Linked DNA regions of Homo sapiens: regions 2 and 3 are each linked to region 1. Evidence: fine-mapped expression QTL. A gene starts in region 1. Each other region holds a variant in brackets. All regions are shown on one strand. Distances are between the middles of the regions.

Region 1 (5,250 bases):
TCGATCTCTCTCACTCCTTTCTGCTTTACAGACCCACAGCCAGGTCCTGCCAATCACTCCCCTCCTTGTTGGAAGTCAGCTACAGGTGAACCAGCAGGGAGAGGCCACTGCCTGCTCACAATCAGCTCATTATCTAATTGAGGAAAAAGGCACAAGCTCACTCAAAAGCAAAATCCAAAGGACCAACAGGAGTTGGGGGCTTCAGGCTTTTTCTTCCCATTCAGGATAGGGTCAATGTCACTTCAAAAGGTATAATTACAAAAGGCTAGAGACCACGCCTTCAGCTTTAAGAGAATAGCAGTACCTTCCATCCTCCAGAAAGCTTTTGGACTTGTGGACTATCCCTATTTAAGACGGCTCATTGCATCAAGGAAACACAGTTTCATTCAATAAACATCAGTCATTTCCTTCAAATTCCCACCGGAAAGCTACTGACATTGTAAACCTTTAGGATTTGAAAGACGCTAAAGTTTAAAGTCGAATCATAAATACTGTTCCAATCCAATCACTCAGGCCCAGAGCTGGTGGGAGTTCTGGATTGCATTTCCGGCTTCACCAGTATCTCTGTAACTTAGCAGCAAGCTACACCTCCACCAGCCTCGGCTTCCTCTTAGGAGAAATGAGAAAACTGGACCCAATCAGTGTTTCCCAAAAGCATGGTGGGCGTCCAATGCAAGATGTCACAGTGCAAGAGAGGACTCTGTGTGCATGCCAATTAACATGTTTTAGTTATTAGTTTACTCTGTCTGGTGAGTAATGTTAGTTTTCCTAATAAATAAGATTTCCTTTTAAAATAAATGCATCCAAATATTTTTAAAAATGAGTCACTTTCACAAAAACCTATTTAGTAAATAAGAGTTCAGGTGATTCTAGCAGCCGTGGCAAAAATAACTGATCTAGAGGCCTGGCGTGGCGTGAAATCCCTGAGTACAGGGGGAGGAAGAGAGCGAAGGCGGCTGGAGTTCCTCGCAAAGAAGCAAGCCCCGGGCACCAGGGTCCGCAGTGACCAGCCGCCGGTCCTCCACGCTTCCAGAGGAGACGATTTGGAACTGACCCGGGAGGGCCAAGAAACACCTTCCGAGTACCAGGCTAAACCCCGCCAGGGAGAGAGACCGGGACGAAGGTCCCAGGCTAGTGCGACACCGCAGGTCGGGGTTCCCTGGTTGGAGGAGCGCGGTGGGCTGGGAGGGGCGCGTTGGTGCGCACTGGAACAGGGGTCCCCGGCTTGAGCAGCGCGGTGAGACAGAGTTCCCGCGCTGGAGGGGCGCGGTGAGACAGAGGTCCTGGGCTGGAGAGGTGCGTTGGGGCGCACTGGAACCGGGGTCCCGGGCTTGAGTGGCGCGGTGGGACAGAGTTCCCGGGCTGGAGGGGCGCAGTGGGACAGAAGATCCGGGCTAGAGGGGCGCGGTGGGACGGAGCTCCCGGGATGGACGGGCGCAGTGGGACAAGGGTCCCGGACTGGAGGGGCGCGTTGGGGAGCATTGGAACAGGGGTCCTGAGCAGGAGGGGCGAGGTGGGCTGGGAGGGGCGCGGTAGGGCGCACTGGAACAGGGGTCCTGGGCTGGAAAGACACGTTGGAACAAGGGTCCCGGGCTTGGGCGGCGCGGTGAGACGGAGTTCCCGGGCTGGAGGGGCGCGGTGGGACAGGGGATCCGGGCTGGAGGGGCGCGGCGAGACCGGGGTCCCAGGCTGGAAAGGTGCAAGTCGAGGCTGGAGGACCGGCGGGAGGGAACCGGGAACCCGGCGGAGCTAAGGGGCGCAGAGTGGGGGTGGGGCCGTGCTGCCGGGGGAGCCCCCTCACGCAGGAAGGACCGGGGCCGCGGACCCCACCGCCCCCACACCCCGTCGTCGCGGAGTTCGGGCCGCCCCGGCTGCGCCCGGGCCCTACCTGTCCTCGCTGGCCGTGATCACGCCGTCCTCCTTGGGGATGAGCAGCGCGGCCGTGACGGCGTCCTGGTGCCCCTCGATCTTGCTCAGCAGCACCGGGCGGCTGCTCTGCGGCCTGGAGTGGATTTCGGCCGCCATGTTCGCGCGGCGACTGCTGCGGCCTCCTCGGCAGGCAGCCCATCAGCTGACGCCTGGGCGGGCGGGGGACGCGCCGGTTTCCCTTCGGCTGCTGGGGCCTCTTGGGCGCCGCGCCGCCGTAAGCCCCCGAGTGCTGCCGCCGCACCGCCCGTATTGCCTGGGGATGCCGCGCAAGCTGAAAGTCTGTGGCTGGGAGAGGATGCCACGGGGCGCCTGCGGAGAAATGGGGAAAGTAAGGAAGGTTTAAAAGTAAAGCCATTCACCCAGGAATAAATTGAGCACCTGGAGGGGACAAGGAATTGTCCCCCAAACCAGAGATTTCAGAAATTACAATACTACATTTCATCCATTTGAAGAAGCCATTGTTTGAAAGGCACACACTTTCAGAAATGTTAAAATGTGAAAAAATATAGTGCATCTTAGAATCTTTGAACTACAATAGATAGCACTGAGTGGTGACCATATACCAGGCATTAACTCAGTGTCTTTGCATCTCATTTAATACTGATAATTTTAAGAGATGAAATAGATGCTCTTGTATTCCCATTTTAGAGATGAGAAAACAACCAGAGAAGTTTGATCACTACCTTAAGGTTGCACAGCTATGAGAGGGAGAAAAGCAGCCCTTGATCTCCAGGAGCTGCCTGGTACTATCAGCTGAGCTTTGGTGTTGCTAGGAAGTGTTTGCTTCCTGTGGAACATAAACATCAGACGAGGCCACTCCATAATCACATCTAAACACGGCCAAAATATGAGCGATGTACAAGCCACAGAAATTACCAAACATCCCCCTATCCTGGCTAATATGAGTGACTCTTATTTCTTTATTAATTATAATGTTAACCGCTATCTAGTCTTCCTCCATTTAGATAAGATTTATTAAGATATGCAACCTTAGAATTATACGCATTTCCTGACAACATCCAGTCCACAGGAGAGCCTCTCTTCCTTAAGCTCTCCCAGGTCACCTAACACAAACACAAATCCTATAATAAAACTGTCCGAACATCCCTTTACCCAGACACCTCACCATTCCCAATGGTGTGTCTTCTCCCTCCAACAAGCAATCAACCCCATTTGTTCCTGGTGGTTTTTGGCTAGAGGTCATTGACAACCAGTAAGTTCAAGAGCCAAAATTTGGACTCAGGAAGTCAATGACTCCAAACTTCTGCCCCACTATATTATTCTGACACCTGAATTGCAGAATTGCATTAGAACCGTACTATCCACATGACTATAGAGCACTTGAAATGTGGCTTGTCCAAACTGAGATGTAGTACAAGTGCAAAATACTACAAGATTTTATAGACTTAGCACAAAACAAAAAAGATGTAATATAGTTCATCAATAATTGTTACAATGATTACATGTTGAAATGATACTATTTTGGATATATTGAGTTAGATACTATTAAAATTAATATGACCTGCTTATTTTTTTAAGGTAGCTAATAAAAACTTTAAATTATGGATGTGAATCAGATGGTACTTCTATGTACAGTGATTTACTAGAACTTTCTTTTTGTTTTTGTTTTGTTTTGTTTTAGTTTTTTGAGACGAACTCACTCCGTCACCCAGGCTGGAGTGCAGTGGTGCGATCTCGGTTTACGGCAACCTCCGCCTCCCAGGTTAAAGGGATTCACCTGTCTCAGCTTCCCGAGTAGCTGGGATTACAAGCACCTACCACCATGCCTGGCTAATTTTGTATTTTTACTAGAGACAGGGTTTCACCATGTTGACCAGGCTGGTCTCAAACTTCTGCCCTCAAATCATCTGCCCACCTCAGCCTCCCAAAATGCTGGGATTACGGGCAGGAGCCACCATTGTACTAATACTTTCTCATGATGAAGTTATTAACAAACATTCATGAATTTATTTATTCCTATATTCAACAGACATATATCGCACACTTACTATATGCTGTTGCTGATGAGATTAATAAGACATGGTTTTTGTGAGGCTGTACAGTGTAATGACTAGACACGCTACTGAACAACTTTGTTTAATCAACCAACATCTCCCAAGTGCCTGCTGTGAGCCAGGTGCCATTCTAAATGCAGCAGTGCTCAAGAGAGACAAAAATCCCTCTGCTGTTAGAACTTACATCCCAGTGAAGGAAACAGATAGTAAACTAAATTATATAATATATTAGAAGATGTTCAATGCTATTAAATGCTATGGAGAAAATAAAGCAGGGAAGGGTGATAGGGACTCTAGGGGATGTTGCGATTTTAAATAGATGGTGTGATAGATTCAGGAATACACTGCACAGATCTGCTTTCAGGGAAGAACAGTGGTCAGCAGAGAGCCTCTAGCCTTCAGCTCCTTCAGGGACTGCCCCAGCTGCTGAGAACCACTGGGTCTCAGTTGTTCCCTTCACAGGGAAGCCCACATTCAGTAACTGAACAAGATAGGAGGATAAAGGCCTGACCATCAAGACAGACCGATGAGCAACACTTGCTCTAGAACTCTCTCCTAGATTGGACAAGGCTTTGTAAGGCGTGTACTGCAGCTGACTTCTCCTGCCTAATCCTGGTACCTCCCCCTCCCTTCACAGGCATTGATTCCTAATAAACACCCTCTGAGCCAACCTCTATCACCGTATCTGCTGCTGGAGAATGCAACCTGAGACAAGTAAAAGCCTCATTGTAAAGTTACATTTTGAGCCAAGAAGGAGAGGAGGGAGTAAGCCATGTGGAAATGTGGGCCAAATACTTTTCTGGAAAAGAAAAGAGCACGTGTTAAGGCATTGAGGTGAGCACATGCCAGGGGTTTTGTAGAGACAGCCAGGCACCCCGTGAGGCTGGAGCAGAGTGAGTGAGGGAGTGCTCAGAGAAAAACAGCACAGACAGGTCACCAGACAGACCATGTTGAGCCCAGAGACCATTGATAAGGGCTTTGGTTTTTACTTCAAATGAGATAGGAAGCCATTGGAGAGTTTCGAACAGAAGGCTGGTTTAATCTGCCTTCAAGTTTTTAAATTTGTATTCATTTATTTTTCGAGACGAAGTCTCACTCTGTCGTCCAGGCTGGAGTGCAGTGGTGCGATCCTGGCTCACTGCAACCTCCACCTCCTGGGTTCAAGTGATTCTCGTGCCTCAGCTTCTCAAGTAGCTGGGACTACAGGCACGTGCCACCACACCCAGCTAATTTTTGTACTTTTAGTAGAGAGGGTGTCACCATGTTGGCCAAGCTGGTTTCGAACTCCCAACCCCAGGTGATCCAC
Region 2 (5,250 bases), 73 kb before region 1:
ACTGATCCTGGGTGTGTCTGTGAGGGTGTTGCCAAAGGAGGGTAACTTTGAGTCAGTGGACTGGGAGAGGCAGACCCACCCTCAGTCTGGGTGGGCACCATCTAATCAGCTGCCAGCATGGCTAGAATAAAAGCGGGCAGAGGAACATGAAAGGCCTAGACTGCCTGAATCTTCTGGCCTCTGTCTTTCTCCCGTGCCAGATGCCTCCTGCCCTCGAACATCAGACTCCAAGTTCTTCAGCTTTTGAACTCTTGGACTTACACCAGTGATTTGCCAGGGCTCTCGGGCCTGCAGCAACAGACTGAAGGCTGCTCTGTCGGCTTCCCTACTTCTGAGGTTGGGACTTGGACTGGCTTCCTGGCTCCTCAGCTTGCAGACCTATTACGGCCCATGATGGGACTTCGCCTTGTGATCGTGTGAGTCAACTCCCCTTCATATATTTATCGATCCTATTAGTTCTGTCCCTCTAAAGAACCCTGACTAATCCAGGGGGCTGCCGGAATAGATGAGTGTGGGCTGCCCCATGGTAGTAGCAGCAGAATGGTGAGAAGCGGCTGTTCTGAGGGTCTATTGGAAGGTAGTGCCCTTAGGCCTGTGCCGAGGTTGATGTTGGCAAGCTCGCCTATGTTGTCGGCGCACAGTTGCAACTTGATATTCGTTGGACAGATAACGGCTGATATGACTCCCTCAGATAACAGATAATATATACCTGACAATACAAGAAATATGAAAGTACATGAATAGGCCAAGCGTGGTGGCTCACGCCTGTAATCCTAGCGCTTTGGGAGGCTGAGACGGGTGGATTACTTGAGGTCAGGATTTCAAGACCAGCTTGGCAAGTATGGTGAAACCCTATCTCTACTAAAAATATAAAAACTAGCCAGATGTGGTGGCACATGCCCGTAATCCCAGCTACTCAGGAGGCTGAGGCTAGAGAATCGTTTGACCCCAGGAGGTGGAGACTGCAGTGAGCCAAGATTGCGCCATTGCATTCCAGCCTGAGCAAAAGGGTGAGACTCTGTCTCAAAAATAAATAAATAAATAAAAAATAAAGTACATGAATAACTTAGAAATAAAGTCCTCAAATCACCTGAGCAAAGAATTGTTTTTATACAGGTAACTCCAGAAATGAACAAATTTCTGCCTGACCATATGTTTTCTTTCTCCCCTCCCTTTCTTCCTAACACCACAGTGGGTTCATTCAACCAGATGTTCCTAATTATAAAAGTTGCTCTTTAATGAGTTCCTCTATCCCCAACAGCTTGAGGAAAATTGCACAACAGAACTTTCCACACATTCAGCCTAAAGTGGCATTTTCAAAGCATGAGAAGAAACATATCAAGTTTTGCTCTCCAATCTGTGGAATAAATGAAAACAAGATCTAAATCAAAGGTCTAAAGATCAGGGACTGAGCAGGTCTTGTGTGATGGACACTGAGGATAAGACCAGCCCCTGTCTTCCAGAGGCTTCCAAGCTAGAGCAGAAATGCAGGTTACAGGCCATTATCATGCATGGGTCGAGTCTCACAAGAGTTTAAGCATGTGGTGGATCTAGAAGAATCATTTAAATAAATGTGAAGTTGTTCAAAAACAATTTTTCTTTCTCTGAGTTAAGGTTTGTTTGCTTTGAGACCGAGTGTCGCACTGTCACCCCGGCTGAAGTGCAGTGGCACAATCTCAGCTTACTGCAACCTCCGCTTCCGGGGTTCAAGTGATTCTCCCGCCTCAGCCTTCTGAGTAGCTGGGATTGCAGGCACCCGTCATCATGCCCAGCTAATTTTTGTATTTTTGCAGAGACGGGGTTTCAACATGTTGGCCAGGCTGGTCTTGAACTCCTGACCTCAGGTGATCTGCCCACCTCGGCCTTCCAAAGTGCTGGGATTACAGGCGTGAAGCACCGTGCCTGGTCGAGTTAAGGTATTTTGAATTCAACAAATTATGCAAGCCTGCAAAACTTAATATCACAGAATTAACCAAAGAAATCTACAGCTATTAAAAAATCTGGTTGTTTGCTATTATCTTGCCAAAACTCAATATCACATTTATTTAATAAATGAATGATACCTGGAGTTTTGAAATACTAAAATCATGTGATTGTTTTGTAACTTTTATTAGTTGTGTTTGATTTTCATGGTAGAGTCTGCAAAGCTATTGGCTATTCTCAATATTATAGGAAGAGATAATATCCCTATTAGGAGGATTTAAGTAACAAAGTCCTTTAAGAGCATCATAGGTTTAACAGCCATACTCTAGAAGACTGAGTCCCAAGTTCTTTCAAATTTATTAGCTCAATTTTGGGACACCCCTCCATTCCTTGCTGTGCATTAATGTTAATCTATTTTGGATAAAAATTAGGCCGGGGTGGTGGCTCATGCCTGTAATCCCAGCACTTTGGGAGGCCAAGGCGGGCAGATCACTTGAGGTTAGATCACAAGACCAGCCTGGCCAACATGGTGAAACTTTGTCTCTACTAAAAATATAAAAATTAGCCAGGCATGGTGGCATGCGCCTGTAGTCCCAGCTACTCAGGAGGCTGAGGTAGGAGAATCACTTAAACC[C/T]GGGAGGCAGAATTTGAAGTGAGCTGAGATCACGCCACTGCTCTCCAGCCTGGGTGACAGTCAGACTTCATCTCAAAAAATAAAAAATAAAATGTACTTTCTAGAAAGAATTAAGACACATGCACACGTATGTTTATTGCAGCACTGTTCACAGTAGCAAAGACTTGGAACCAACCCAAATGCTCATCAATGGTAGACTGAATAAAGAAAATGTGGGATATATACACAATGGAATACTATGCAACCATAAAAAAGGATGAGTTCATGTCCTTTGCAGGGACATGGATGAAGCTAGAAACCATCATTCTCAGCAAACTAATGCAGGAACAGCAAACTAAACACTGCATGTTCTCACTCATAAGTGGGAGTTGAACAATGAGAACACATGGACACAGGGAGGGGAACATCACACACTGGGGCCTGTCGGGGAGTGGGGGGCTAGGGAAGGGATAGCATTAGGAGAAATAACTCATGTAGATGATGGGTTGATGGGTACAGCAAACCACCATGGCACGTGTATACCTATGTAACAGGCCTGCATGTTCTGCACATGTATCCCAGAACTTAAAGCATAATTTTTTTAAAAAATTTCAAAATAAAGAAAATACGGTATCATAAAACACTAACTAAGAATCACTGGTCTTTAGAGAATATAGGAAGTAAATAATTGGTTTGCAATACGGGGTTACTAGAAAAGGAGGTTGGACTTTGGCCTCAGAATTTCCAGTTTTCTACTTGGGAAATTGATATTATTTTCACTGTAAAGTAACTGCCATTCCATAAATTCAGACAATAAGAGATACCTTTTTATCGCCTATCCAAAAACACAAATTCAAATCTTGGCAATAGTGTGAGGATATTATCAATAACAATAAAACACTTAATAACATGCATATTCTGACCTAGCAATTCCCACTTTTTAAGACTTTATCCTCAGAAAATAATTGGAAAAGTGGGCAAGATAAACATATAAGCATGCTGAGCTTGTATATTTTTAAATGTAAAAATTTGAAAAATATTTAGTGTTTTAATTACAATGATAATCTAAACATATATAATCTAATTTTATGAGATTGGTAAAATGCATGATGGCTTAGCCACATAGGACAATGGGATACTGCTATACATGCTAGTATTATGCTGTAAGACACACACACACAAATCCCTAGCCACTCTCCCATCCCTGACACACACACCACACACCCCTACCACAGTGGGCTAAAACAATGATTTATTTCTCGATCATGCAAAGTCCACTGCAGTCCTAGAGCGGTTGTGATCTGTAGAATGGCTTAGCGTCACACTTCACCAACACATGCTTCATGAGGGGCATGGAAGAAAGTGTCATGGTACCAGAGGCTCACCTGCAGTAAAGAGCTTCTGCCCACGTTTCATTTGCTAAAGCAAGTTACAAGGGCCTTTCTTGACCTCAAATGGAGACGTGGGATCCCAACATGTGTCCAGATGATGGCAGGAGCAAATGTCTACTGCAACTACACAGCCATAAAAAATACTAACATGGAGTTCTACTTTTTGACACGGGCAAACTATCCATAATGTATCAAGTGGGAAAACAAGTATGGTCCCATTAAAACAATGTATCTCTAAGTGTGTGTTACATATGTAAGGAGACATTTATAAAAACATTGGAAAGATATACAGGATAAGTTTAATGGTGTTTTCTCCAGGTGGTGGGATGAGATGATTTTAAAAACAACTTGTTTTATACTTTTTGGTTCTATCTTTTTCTTTTCCTTTTTTATTATTATTATTTTATTGAGATGGAGTCACGCTCTTGTTGCCCAGGCTAGAGTGCAGTGGCACGATCTCAGCTCACTGCAACCTCCGCCTCCCGAGTTCAAGCGATTCTCCTGCCTCGCCTCCTGAGTAGCTGGGATTACAGGCGCCTGCTACCATGCCTGGCTAATTTTTTGTATTTTTAGTAGAGACAGGGTTTCACCATCTTGGCCAGGCTGGTCTGGAACTCCTGACCTCGTGATCCACCTCAGCCTCCGAAAGTGCTGGGATTACAAACGTGAGCCACCGCGCCCAGCTTCCTTTTCTTTTTATTATAATAAGATAATATTTTGATGATGAGAGAAAAGAAAGCCATATTTATTTTGAAAAACATACTATTCACTGCCTTTCTGGTTTCTAAATCAATCTCTGGTTTAGTTGAGGTATCAGTTCTTCTGGGTCTGAACCACACGTGTTCACTCACAAAACTGAGCTGCTGAGGAGAAGTAGAGCTTGATCTTGTTATCACTAGATAGCTCTGTGTAGTCAGAGCGCCTAAATATCCTGCACTATGCTGACTGCTACCTCAAGCGGCAGAGACAGTAATACCCACCACCCTTACAGACAGCACAAATGACATGCTAGCACATTCAGGCCAGAGGCAGGAAGAAGGCATGTGTTTTCAAGACAGAAAGGCAGACTTAATAACACACATTCTCTTGGTTTTCTCATCTGTAAAATGGGAGGAATGATGCCTTGCCCAAGTGTTGCCAGGATTGAGTAAGATAATGTAGTGAAAGCACCCAGCACACAGAGGGTGCTGAATAAATGGTTGCTACTGTTATTGCCCTACGTCCAGGCTGACTACAACAAAAGTGATATTAGGCAAACACAGTAACAAGCAAGGAATGTTTTATTGTGTACATTTTCTCAAAAAAAAAAACCCACAAAAACAG
Region 3 (5,250 bases), 260 kb before region 1:
ACTTCACAGTTCTTTAGAGAAACCCAAGAACCTTTTAGAGATTCTGGAAGGTCAAACTATTTTAATAACAATACTAAAGGACTATTTGCCTTTCTTACTGTCTCTCTCACGAGCACTATATTTGGAGTTTTCCAGAGGTTATATGATGTAAGAGATTGCCACAAATGTAGAAGAAAACATGAGAATCCTGCAGTCATCTGTTAAGCCAATTATTAAAGAGACACTGCTAACTGAAAAAAAAAAAACTACTCTTTGGGAAAATACAGCTATTTTTCACTTTAAAAATGTTTTTATGTTGACAAATAATGGGTTCATTATTGTTCTTCTAAAGGAAACAACAAATAAAGTGTTCTTAATTTTCATTTGCAATATGGTAGCGATAGATATAAATCATAAAGAAAAAACTCTTTGGTTTTTCAATAAGTTTTAAAGTGTAAAGATTGGTCAGAAACCCAAAAGTTTTCTAATGGCCACTAGGCTTATATACTATGTCTTTCCATGATAGCAACTAGTCATAGGGTTTTTTTGTGTGTTAAGATTAAATGAGGCCAGGCGTGGTGGTTCATGCCTGTAATCCCAACACTTTGAGAGGCCGAAGTGGGTGGATCACCTGAGGTAAGGAGTTCGAGACCATCCTAGCCTACATGGTAAAACCTCATCCCTACTAAAAATACAAAAATTATCTGGGCATGTTGGTGTGCACCTATAATCCCAGCTACTCGGGAGGCTGAGGCAGGAGAATTGCTTGAACCTGGGAGGCAGAGGTTGCAGTGAGCCCAGATTGCACCATTGCACTCTAGCCTGGGTGACAGAGTGAGACTCCATCTCAAAAACAAAACAAAACAAAAAACAAAACAAACAAACAAAAAACTCTTTGGGTTTTCAATAAGTTTGAAAGTGAAAAGATTGGTCAGAAACCCAAAAGTGTTCAAATGGCTGCTAGGCTTATATACTACACCTTTCCATGATAGCATCTGGTCATAGGGTTTTTTGTGTGTAAAGATTAAATGAGATAACCCATGTGAAAAGCTGAACATGGCCCCTGGCACATGGACAGTGTCAACATACGTTAGCTATTATTGTCATAGTTATTAGAGATGAAATAACCTGCCTGAGGCCACACTGTGACAAACTAGGGACATAAAAAAGTTGAAATTCTCTGCAATAATATAATAAGCTGCATTTAATAATGATTTAACAAACTAGATGATCAAATTCCCTTCCAGTGAGTAATGTTAAGTACCACAAAGAAGAGAGCTGTCCATAACTAACGCCATTGAAGAGAAAGATGATGGGTCATAGAGACTCCAGGCAGATGAACAAAGACCTGGATTCCAGGTGTGATACTTACAGTACCTAAATGTGTTACCACAGGCAAATCATTTGAAATCTCTGAATTATTGTGTTCATATGTATAAAATGTAAAAAATTATGTATCTCTCTCATCTACATTACAAGTATGAAATAATTTATGTGAAAGTGCTCTGAAGTATAAAATAGGGAAAGTGTGTTCTGCTCCAATTCTCATACCCAAATAAATCCCAGAGGGATTAAAATGTTACTGTAAAAAACACAAGCAAAAATTACTAGAAAGATATATAGGCCGGGCGCGGTGGCTCACGCCTGTAATCCCAGCACTTTAGGAGGCCGAGGAGTGCAGATCACGAGGTCAGGAGATTGAGATCATCCTAGCTAACATGGTGAAATCCTGTCTCTACTAAAAATACAAAAATTAGCTGGGCATGGTGGCACATGCCTGTAATCCCAGCTACTCGGGAGGCTGAGGCAGGAGAATCGCTTGAACCGGGAAGTCGGAGGTTGCAGTGAGCCAAGATCATGCCACTGCACTCCAGCCTGGGTGACAGAGTGAGACTCTGTCAAAAAAAAAATAATTATATATATATATATATATATATATATATATAGACATTTTAATATGAGAAAATTTATACAATTCTGGGATGAGGAGAATTTGTCAATGTGATGACAAAGAGAAAACATTTTACAAAAGTACTGAAGTTACCTCAAAAAAAGAGAAAATAGACTGAGCATGGTGGCTCATGCCTTCAATCTCAGCACCTTGGGAGGCCAAGTCAAGAGGATGACTTGAGCCCAGGAATTCAAGATCAGCCTGGGCAACATGGCAAGATCCTGTCTCTCCAAAAAAAATACAAAAATTAGCTCTGGGCGTAGTGGTGGGTGCCTGTGATCCCAGCTACTTAGGAGGCTGAGGTGGGAGGATCGCTCGAGCCCAGGAGTTCTAGGCTGCAGAGAGCTGTGTTTGTATCATTGCACTCCAACCTAAGCAGCAGGGCAAGACCCTATCTCAAAAAAAAAAAAAAAAAATGTTTGGCAGGGAGGAGAAAATCGCAGTGAATCTTTGTGAACTTGAGTTATACAATGGCCTCTTAGATATGACACCAAAAGCCAAAAGCACATGTGGAAAAAAGAAAAATTGGACCTTACCAAAATGACAAACTTTGTGCTTCAAAAGGTACCATGAAGAAAGTGAAAAACACAACTAAAACATGGAAGAAAACATTTGCAAATTATAAGTTTGATAAGTCTGGTGTCCAGAATATATAAAGAACTTTTAAAACTTGACAATAAAAAGACAAATAACCCACTTAGAAATGGGCAAAGGGCTTGAATAGACATTAATCCAAATAAGGTGTACCGATGGTCAATATGTGCTCCCAAAAATATGTTCAGCCTTATTAGTCATCAGGGAAATGCAAATAAAAACCACAATGAAATACCAATTCACACCCACTGGCATAGCTAAAATTAAAAAGCCAACTAATAACAGGTGTTAGCAAAAATGTAGAGAAATTGGAGCCCTTATCAACGCTGGTGGAATTGTAAAATAGCGCAGCCACTTTGGAAAACAGTTTGAACATTCTCAAAATGTT[A/G]AAACAAAGTTACCACATGATCCAGCAATTCTGCTCCTAGATATATACCTAAGAGAACTGAAATCGTATGTTCAAACAAAAACCTTTATTAAAACATTCATAGTAGGCCAGGCATGGTGGATCATGCCTGTAATCCCATCACTTTGGGAGGCTGAGGCAGGTGGATCACCTGAGGTCAGGAGTTCAAGACCAGCCTGGCCAACATGGCAAAACCCCATCTCTACTAAAAGTACAAAAAATTAGCCAGGCGTGGTGATGTGCACCTGTAATCCCAGCTACTTGGGAGGCTGAGGCAGGAGAACTGCTTGAACCTGGGAGTTGGAGGCTGCAGTGAGCCAAGATTGTGCCACTGGTACTCCAGCCTAGGCAACAGAGCAAGACTTTGTCTCAAAAAAAAAAAAAAAGAAAAAGAAAAAAAGAAAAGAAAACATTCAGAACAGCATTATTCACAATAGCCATAAGGTAGAAAAGCCCACACATCCATCTACTGATGAATGCATAAACAAAATATACATCTATACTGTAGAATATTATTTGACAATAAAAAAGACTAAAGTACTTATACATGTTGCAACATGGGTGAAACTTGAAAACATTATGCGAAGTGAAAGATGCCAGTCACAAAAGGCCACATTTTGTAGGATTCCTTTTATATAAAATGTCCAGAATAGGCAAATCCATAAAGACAGAAAGTAGATTAATGCTTCCAGAGGGTACATGGAAGGAGAAACAGAGTTTCTCTCCTCTGCTAAGCAGAGGAGTTTCATTTGGTGTGATGAAAAAGTTCTAAAATTAGATAGTAATGGCTGCACAACTCTGTGAATATACCAAAAACCACAGAAATGGAATGTAAATTATAACCCAATAAAGCTGCTGTAAAAAATGTACTGGAGTTTGTCCCTGGAAAAACATAGCTTCAGAAAGGCAGAAGTCATTTTAAAAGTAAAATATTTTTTAAATGGTGGGAAACAAATTGTGTAATTGACCTTAATGTAGTGTTAATGTCTTCAATATATAAAGCACATTTATAAGCCAATAAGAATGTATTAGTCAGTTCTCATGTGCGAATAAAGACATACCTGAGCCTGGGTAATTTATGAAGGAAAGAGGTTTAATAGGCTCACAGTTCCACATGTCTGGGGAGGCCTCACAATCGTGGTGGAAGGCAAAGGAGAAGAAAGTCATGGCTTACATAGCAGCAGGCAAGAGATCTTGTATGGGGAACTCCCATTTATAAAATCATCAGATCTTATAAGAGTTATTCACTACCATGAGAACAGTATGGGGGAAACCGCCCCCATGATTCAATTATCTCCATCTCCACCTTGCCCCACGATTGACACATGGGGATTATTACAGTTGAATGTGAGATTTGGGTGGGGACACAGCCAGACCAAATCAAAGAGAAAAAGGTAACATCTGAAATGAAAATGGGCTGAAGATATTAATATAAAGTTCATAAAAGAGGAAATATGAATGATATAAACACATTAAAATGCTCATCTTGACTTATAATAAAAGGACAAATTAAAGTGACATGTTTTTTGCTTACCAGATTGACCAAGATTACAAATACTAGTGACCCTGTAGGCTGGTACATGGGGCTGGATGTATTCTCATGCAATGCAATTGAGAGTTTACACTGATATAGTTGTCTGAAGGCCAATTTAGCCATATATTTAGCCATACAATTTAGCCAAACACTCATACATTTTGATCTTATAGTTCTATAATTTCATGCTAAGGAAATACTTGGGTGTATTAGCAAAGGTAAATGTGTAAAAATATTTGTCAAAGTAAATGATAGAAAAATACTAGAAAAATCCTACATGTTAAATAATTGGAATAGGGATATATAGTTTTACCTATACAGTGAAATTCTTAGCATCCAGTTAGAATAAAGATATTACTCATATTTATTGATATAGAGGTGTGGTCATAGTATATTGTTAGCCAAGAAAAGTAGGTACAAAATTATATACAATCTGATATTAAGTTTGTAATATATATTTTTATTGATATTAGATATGTATGTATAGTATAATTGTGTATTTATAAATATATTACTGTAAATTATATATTCATTATAGTCTTACAATTATATTTATATTCTAACATTTATATTATTATTTATAGTTATATGTTATATATTTATATGTATGTGGAGAAAAGTCTTAAAGGATTTTCATAAAAATATTAACAGTTGTCTTTGAATGATAAGATTTGGGGTGAGGCCAGGCACAGTAGCTCACGTCCGTAATTACAGAACTTTTGGAAGCCAAGTGAGAGGATCGCTTGAACCCGGGAGTTCAGGACCAGCCAGGGCAGCATAGTGAGG

Which allele goes with the higher level. Positions count from the first base shown, and alleles are read on the strand shown. Sizes are in standard deviations (SD) of each study's normalised expression.
For the expression in monocytes after Pam3CSK4 of the gene that starts at base 2,076 in region 1, allele C in region 2 goes with a higher level than allele T (large effect, 0.77 SD a copy in Quach 2016).
With allele A in place of G in region 3, the expression in nucleus accumbens of the gene that starts at base 2,076 in region 1 is higher (large effect, 0.79 SD a copy in GTEx).

What was found.
Region 2: its variant is fine-mapped to the expression of WDFY1 in monocytes after Pam3CSK4 (Quach 2016, PIP 0.95).
Region 3: its variant is fine-mapped to the expression of WDFY1 in nucleus accumbens (GTEx, PIP 0.99).

Annotation. Positions count from the first base shown.
Region 1 is chr2:223,943,260-223,948,509 of GRCh38, forward strand. WDFY1 (WD repeat and FYVE domain containing 1) reads right to left here and starts at 2,076. Exons shown (of 12, transcript NM_020830.5): 1 at 1,889-2,076. The coding sequence starts at 2,025. LOC124907989 (a long non-coding RNA gene) reads left to right here. Exons shown (of 2, transcript XR_007088100.1): 1 at 1-1,148; 2 at 4,582-5,250. RefSeq lists enhancers at 888-1,007, 1,018-1,077 and a silencer at 1,648-1,827.
Region 2 is chr2:223,870,159-223,875,408 of GRCh38, forward strand. WDFY1 (WD repeat and FYVE domain containing 1) reads right to left here. Exons shown (of 12, transcript NM_020830.5): 12 at 5,190-5,250. Among named protein-coding and RNA genes, the nearest start is that of AP1S3, 35 kb to the left of the region's middle. The variant C/T (reference allele first, on the strand shown) is at 2,558.
Region 3 is chr2:223,678,587-223,683,836 of GRCh38, forward strand. No RefSeq gene overlaps it. Among named protein-coding and RNA genes, the nearest start is that of SCG2, 79 kb to the left of the region's middle. The variant A/G (reference allele first, on the strand shown) is at 2,913.